Linked DNA regions of Homo sapiens: region 1 is linked to region 2. Evidence: fine-mapped expression QTL. A gene starts in region 2. The other region holds a variant in brackets. All regions are shown on one strand. Distances are from middle to middle.

The links. PIP is the estimated chance that this variant, and not a neighbour inherited with it, causes the effect.
Region 1: its variant is fine-mapped to the expression of CCDC70 in whole blood (TOPMed, PIP above 0.99).

Annotation. Positions count from the first base shown.
Region 1 is chr13:51,837,421-51,840,339 of GRCh38, forward strand. It overlaps TMEM272 (transmembrane protein 272), which reads right to left. Exons shown (of 5, transcript NM_001351003.2): 2 at 1,053-1,133. The coding sequence starts at 1,110. Among named protein-coding and RNA genes, the nearest start is that of TMEM272, 6.3 kb to the right of the region's middle. The variant A/G (reference allele first, on the strand shown) is at 1,596.
Region 2 is chr13:51,860,491-51,863,409 of GRCh38, forward strand. It overlaps CCDC70 (coiled-coil domain containing 70), which reads left to right and starts at 1,479. Exons shown (of 2, transcript NM_031290.4): 1 at 1,479-1,739. It also overlaps a transcript of TMEM272 not described here. RefSeq lists an enhancer at 1,081-2,280.

The DNA.
Region 1 (2,919 bases), 23 kb before region 2:
AGCACCACTGTCCCACTCTGGCCCTCACAGCAGTAGGTGTGCTCCAGGGATGAAAGGAGGGTGGCCCTTAGAGCTGTCCCTGGGAGTAAAATGTCAGGGCTGTGCGTTAGGAGAATGAGATGGGCACTGGGCCCATCAGCGAATGGAGAAGGTCAGTTGTATCTGGGAGGTGGCTCTTCACTCATTTACCTGCTTAGTCAGCCAGTGCCTATTTATTGAGCTCCTACTGTGTGTCAGGCACTGCTGGAGGTGCTGGCATGCAGCAGTGCAGGAAACGTCATGGGAGGAGAAGTGGGAGGTGGACAGTGTGTGCTAGGACATGGTAAGTACAGGTAAGGAAAGGTGCCCAGGCACCCATCTGTCAGCCCCTTGTTCTGCTGACCCTCCACCTTAGTCCGCCACTACCCACTGACTGCAGCTTCCTGATATTAGTGCCTGGAGATGAGTTGCTTAAGGCTTCCCACAATGTTCCCTTTATCCACATTTCATCTGTAAAAGTTAGACCATACATCTCACCATGATGTAAAAGCTTTCATCCCAGGGACCCCCAAGGCCTGGGATCTGATTTTGGGATATTCCAAACACAAGACAGACTGGGTCTTCTGTAATATGGTCCAGCCCCTCTGGACAGAAAGGACCCCAGCAGGTGATAGTGGGGGAATATCCAATTTAGTAAGGAGACAGGTTGAGGTAGGAGTAAGGGAAAGCTACCCAGGTCCAAGGTGTCACATTGCCCTGCCGTGTTGCCCAGCACGGCTGCCATCATACACTGATTGTAGCAGTGACTCCGTTCACATGCATATTTTTCAAACACATATTACATGGAAAACACATACAGTGAACTATGGAAAACTAAAGATGAATTGGTAAGGAATGGAAGGAGAAAGCAGCCAACCGAGGGCCGGACACTGTCTTCCCCAGCTCTACCACCCTGGGGCCACCCCATACCAAGCACAGCCCACTCATATGATCCACTCCAGCTTTAGCTCATCGGGTGATCCCAGAGGTCTCAATCCTACAAAACCAGGGCATTTCTCAGAGTTGTGACTCACCATTGCTGGCGATTTTAGAAATGCACTGATGACACGTTTTCTCCAGACCTCCTGGCATTGTTCTTGCTCGCTGACAAAGTTCTGAGGATCAAAAATAATTCATTAGAAAGGATGGTGGAAGGATTTACTCAGCACCAATAACCAACCCTCTCTGTGCATGTCAGTGGTGGCCTGCAGGGTGGTCTCAGTCAGCCCGGGTGGCCTGGGTGCCAGTGTCAGGTGTGGCCTTGTTAGTGGTTAGCGGGGCTGAGAAAAAGACCCCCTATTCCACAAATGAGAGAACCAAGCTCAGAGAGGTTAAGAGGCTTGCCCAGTGATACCAGCCAGGAAGACACAGGCCTGGAGGGGGAGATGGTAACAGCTCTCACTTGCTGAGCAATGGCTGCAGCCAGGCGTTGTGTTAACTCTTTAAATAGGTCATCTCATATTTAATCCCACAACAATCCTATCTGGGAAGTGTTACTGACTCTGTTTTACAGATGGCGCCTTAGAGACCCTGAGAGCTTAAGATTCACCCTAAGGCCAGAGCTGGCAACTGGCAGA[A/G]CCCAAACTTGATCCAGGTATGGCTCCAGGTACAGAGCAAGGGCGCCCTCACTTCCTGACGCAGCTGCTGCACTCCCCAGGGTCCAAGCGGAAGAGGAACCATGGACTTGACCAGAGCAGCCTGGGTGGAGACCCGAGCGGCCTGGAGCACCACCCCGGCTCCCCTGTGGACCTGCTGTGGTCTGAGCAAGTTGGTTGACACTGTGAGAAAGGGCTTCCCTTCCTTGGAAGAAACAGCCATATACATTTTAAATCCACAAAAAAACTCCAGCTCATCAAGACGGCAAATTTTCCTGCCCGGTGAAATGAGGTAGCCCCGTAAAGACACTAGGAGAGGAAGGGAGTCACTTTGTTCCTGAGGCTGGGTGTGCGTAGTTCCACCACTTCCCACCACGTCATTGCTTGGGAGTAAGGCCTCCATGGGGGCTGGCTGATCCAGGCGGGATCTGGGGCAGGCATCCTTACTTCATACAAAAGTCTCCCCAGGAACCTGTCCAGAGTAGCCGCGGCTCCATTTAAAAGCACGATTTAACAAGGTCCTTGTTCCTCATACTGCAGGGGTTTGCAAACCAAGGGACCACAGCATTTTAGCAGCACTACCTGCAGGCCCTCCTGGGTGAACTAGGGCTTAGGGCAGGGGGAACAGGCCGTGATGGGGAAGATTTGTGGTCTGAGGACAGAGATGGTCATGATGACAGAAGGAGAGCTTGCTTTGACCAGAGCTGTGGCTCATAGCAGGCAAGTCACTCCACCGCCAGCGTCAGCATGGGCCTGCAGGCAGGAGCCATGCAGCCCGCAGCTTCTCTCTGCAGCTGATCCACTGCTAGCACACAAGCACGGTGGTTGGGCTGAGACTCGGGGTTCTTATTTCCCATCACTGTCCTTCTAGGACATGTCATGCTCAAAACTTGGCTTTATGTCAACAGGACCTTTATGGCAGGAAGCAGTGTGACCAGAGATAGTCAGTCCCCAACCAGAGGCATATCACCAGCGCCCTGCCAAGGTCTTCCACATGTTACCTAATTTAGTCTCCTCAGTTCGTATGCCCCATTTTACAGAGAAAACCAAGATTCAGATCAATTTGTTTGCTCAAAGTCACCCAGCTAGTAAGTGGTAGAACTGGGGTTTGAAATGAGGCCTCCGAGACTCTATCTGAAACCTGGACTTTGTGCCTTCAAAGCCCACAATCTCTCCACTTCACCCCAGAGCAATAAAGGGGAAGAAACCTGGAAAGGAGAGGCTTCCCAAAGTGAGTCAGGGATTAAGCAAGGAGGTCACGGTGCCTCCCTGGTCAGTCCTGTCATGCTTGATCCTATTTAACCAG
Region 2 (2,919 bases):
TAGCTAGGTCTGGTGGCGCACGCCTGTAGTCCCAGCTACTTGAGAGGCTGAGGTGGGATGATCACTTGAGTCCAGGAAATTGAGGCTGCAGTTAGCCAAGATCATACCATGCCATTGCACTCCAGCCTGAGTGACAGAAACATGTCTCAAAAAAAAAAAAAAAAAGCATTAAAGGAAAGAATTAAAAACTATGCCTTACCAAAAAGAGACAGAAAAGTATGTGTGCATACATATATATATGTGTGTGTGTATATATATATATACACACACACACACTTTGTATACATATACTTTTATATAGATATATAGAAAAAATATATATATAGAAGTGTGTGTGTGTGTGTGTGTGTATATATATGTATATAGAAAAGCACATATATCCTTTTCTATATATAACCAAACAAATTCTGGAGACACAGTGAAAATTTCTGGAGAAATTCTGGATGGACTAGGGGTCCACTGACAGATGAATGGATAAAGAAATTGCAGCATGTATATAAAGTGGAATATTATTCAGTCATAAACAGAGAATCCTGCCGTTTGTCACAAGATAGATGAAACTGGAGAATATTATGCTAAGTGAAATAAGCCAGACACAGAAAGAAAAATGCTGCACAACTTCACTTATATGTAGAATATTAAAAAAATTAAAAAGAAGAAGTAAGAAAAAAGTCAAATACACAGACAAAGAATAAAATGGCAGCTGCTACGTGTGGGGAGTGGACGGGAAGAGGGAAATCAAAGGGTACAAAGTTGCAGATATATAGGATAAATAATTTAGAGATCTAAGGTACAACATGAGGACTGTAGTTAATAACACTGTATTAAAGATTTTTGCTAAGAGAGTAGATTGTGGGTGCTCTTGCTACAGTGCACAAAAAAGGGTAACTATATGAGATGATGGATATGTTAATTTACTTGACTATTTAAAAATTTTACTACATGACAAAAATTCTGGAGTTGAAAATGAAAAATTAAAGAGGGATTCAACAGCATATTTGAACTGACAGAAGAAAAAAATCCATGAACTTGTAAACAGGTTAATTGAGATTATCTAATCTAAGCAACAGAAAGAAAAAAGAATGAAGAAAAATGAACGTAACTTTAGAGACCTGGGGGACACACTCACGCTACTAGTATTCACATAATATGAGCCCTAGAAGGAGAGGAGACAGAGAAAATGGATGAAAGAATATTTGAAGAAATAATGGCCAAAAACTTCTGAAATTTGATGAAAAACGGCATCAAATCTGCATATCCAAGAAGCTCAACAATCTCCAAGTAGAATAAACCTCAAGACCAAGACACATCATAGTCAAACTATCAAAAGCCAAAGACGAAGAATCTGGAAAGCAGCAAGAGAAGTGATTCATCCCACACAAAGCCCCCACCAGAACATGACTTCCTAGAACCATGCTCCCGGAACCAATGCTGACAGAATCTAAGGTAACAATCACTTGTGAGTCATCAACAGCACTGCCCTATCAGTGAAGTCAAAGATTGAAGAGGAACTCTTTCAAACCTTTCAAGTGCCCCCTCCTTTCCTTAAAGTCTTTTATAGGGGTCCCCTTCTTGGCCATCTCCATCCTGTGAGTCAGGACTGAAAGGGCACAGACAGGTCACTGCCAGCATTGTTGGGGCAAGCCTGCAAGCACGCATCACTGGGGATCTGACATGACAATGGCCGCCTGCCCCCTCTGAGGGCTACAGGACTTACCCCAGTGGGAAGCAGCTAAGCAGTAAGTAACTGTTGGCTTTAGACTGTATAGTATTTGTTCTAAGCATAAGGTAATATATAATATTTTCCTTAAAAAGAAGCTCCTAGTCTTACAGTATAACTGAAAACTGGGCATGTATCTTTAGTGCATGTTTTTACAGCTATACAGATACACATCTACAGTTTTATATTGTACTTTATATTTTAATACACATCTACCTATTTGATATGGTTCTTATTTTCTTTCTTTCTTAAAGAAAGTTTAGTGTTCACTTGAGAAAAACTTGGAGGTGAATGTTTTCCAACATCCTAACCCAGTAGACGCCCATTCATCCAGCTACTATTTCCTGAACACCTATCCTGTGGCAGAACATTTCGCTGGATGCCAGACATAGAGATGGAAGATGAGGTGTTTCTAGTGGGACAGGAAGGGCACATGCTCAGTCTGAGCTTAGGAGAGATGGCCTGGAGGAGGTATCTGAGTGCTGAAGGATTCGCTAGGTGAACTGAAGTGAGGTTGGGCAAGGATATCCAGGGAGAGGGGGCCAGCATGACATGGAAGTGAGGGAGGACTTCACATATTGGAGGGATTCTAGGCAAAGAGCCATACAACATAGAAAATCAAATTTCCAAAATGCAGTTCAATTCAGTTCAATTCAACCAACATTTTCACCAATTCCCTCCTATATAGGCGGCGTTATATTATGATAGCTGCTGGGTTACAGAGATGTCAGGAAGACATGTCCACACCTAATTTCAATCAAGTGTGACAAGTAATAGTGGAGTAACAGACAGACAGTATCGCAGAGGTGGCGAGGAACTTTGTCTGGAGGGTCCGAGTAGCTTTCAGAGGGGAAAGGATGTACAGGAATTCAAGCCCACCACAGGAACAAAAGGGGCTCTCAGTAGAGGATGCGACATGTGCTTCACCACACAGGCAGGAAACTGCAGGCAGAGTGCCAAGAGCTGAATAGAGCCCGTTAATACTGGGCCTTAGATTTGGAGTTGGGTGCAGGCTGGGTAGGAAGGAGAGGGAGAAGCAAGCTGGAGTTGGGCTGCACAAGGCCTTCCTAGGGCGTTCAGCTTTGATCTTTGGGCTACAGGGTCTTTGAAGGTGTGTGAACTGATGTGATAGGACGAGAGAGTGTTCTAGAAAACACCTGTAGGGCTACAGTGCAGGGGCAGATGAGAGGGTAAGATCA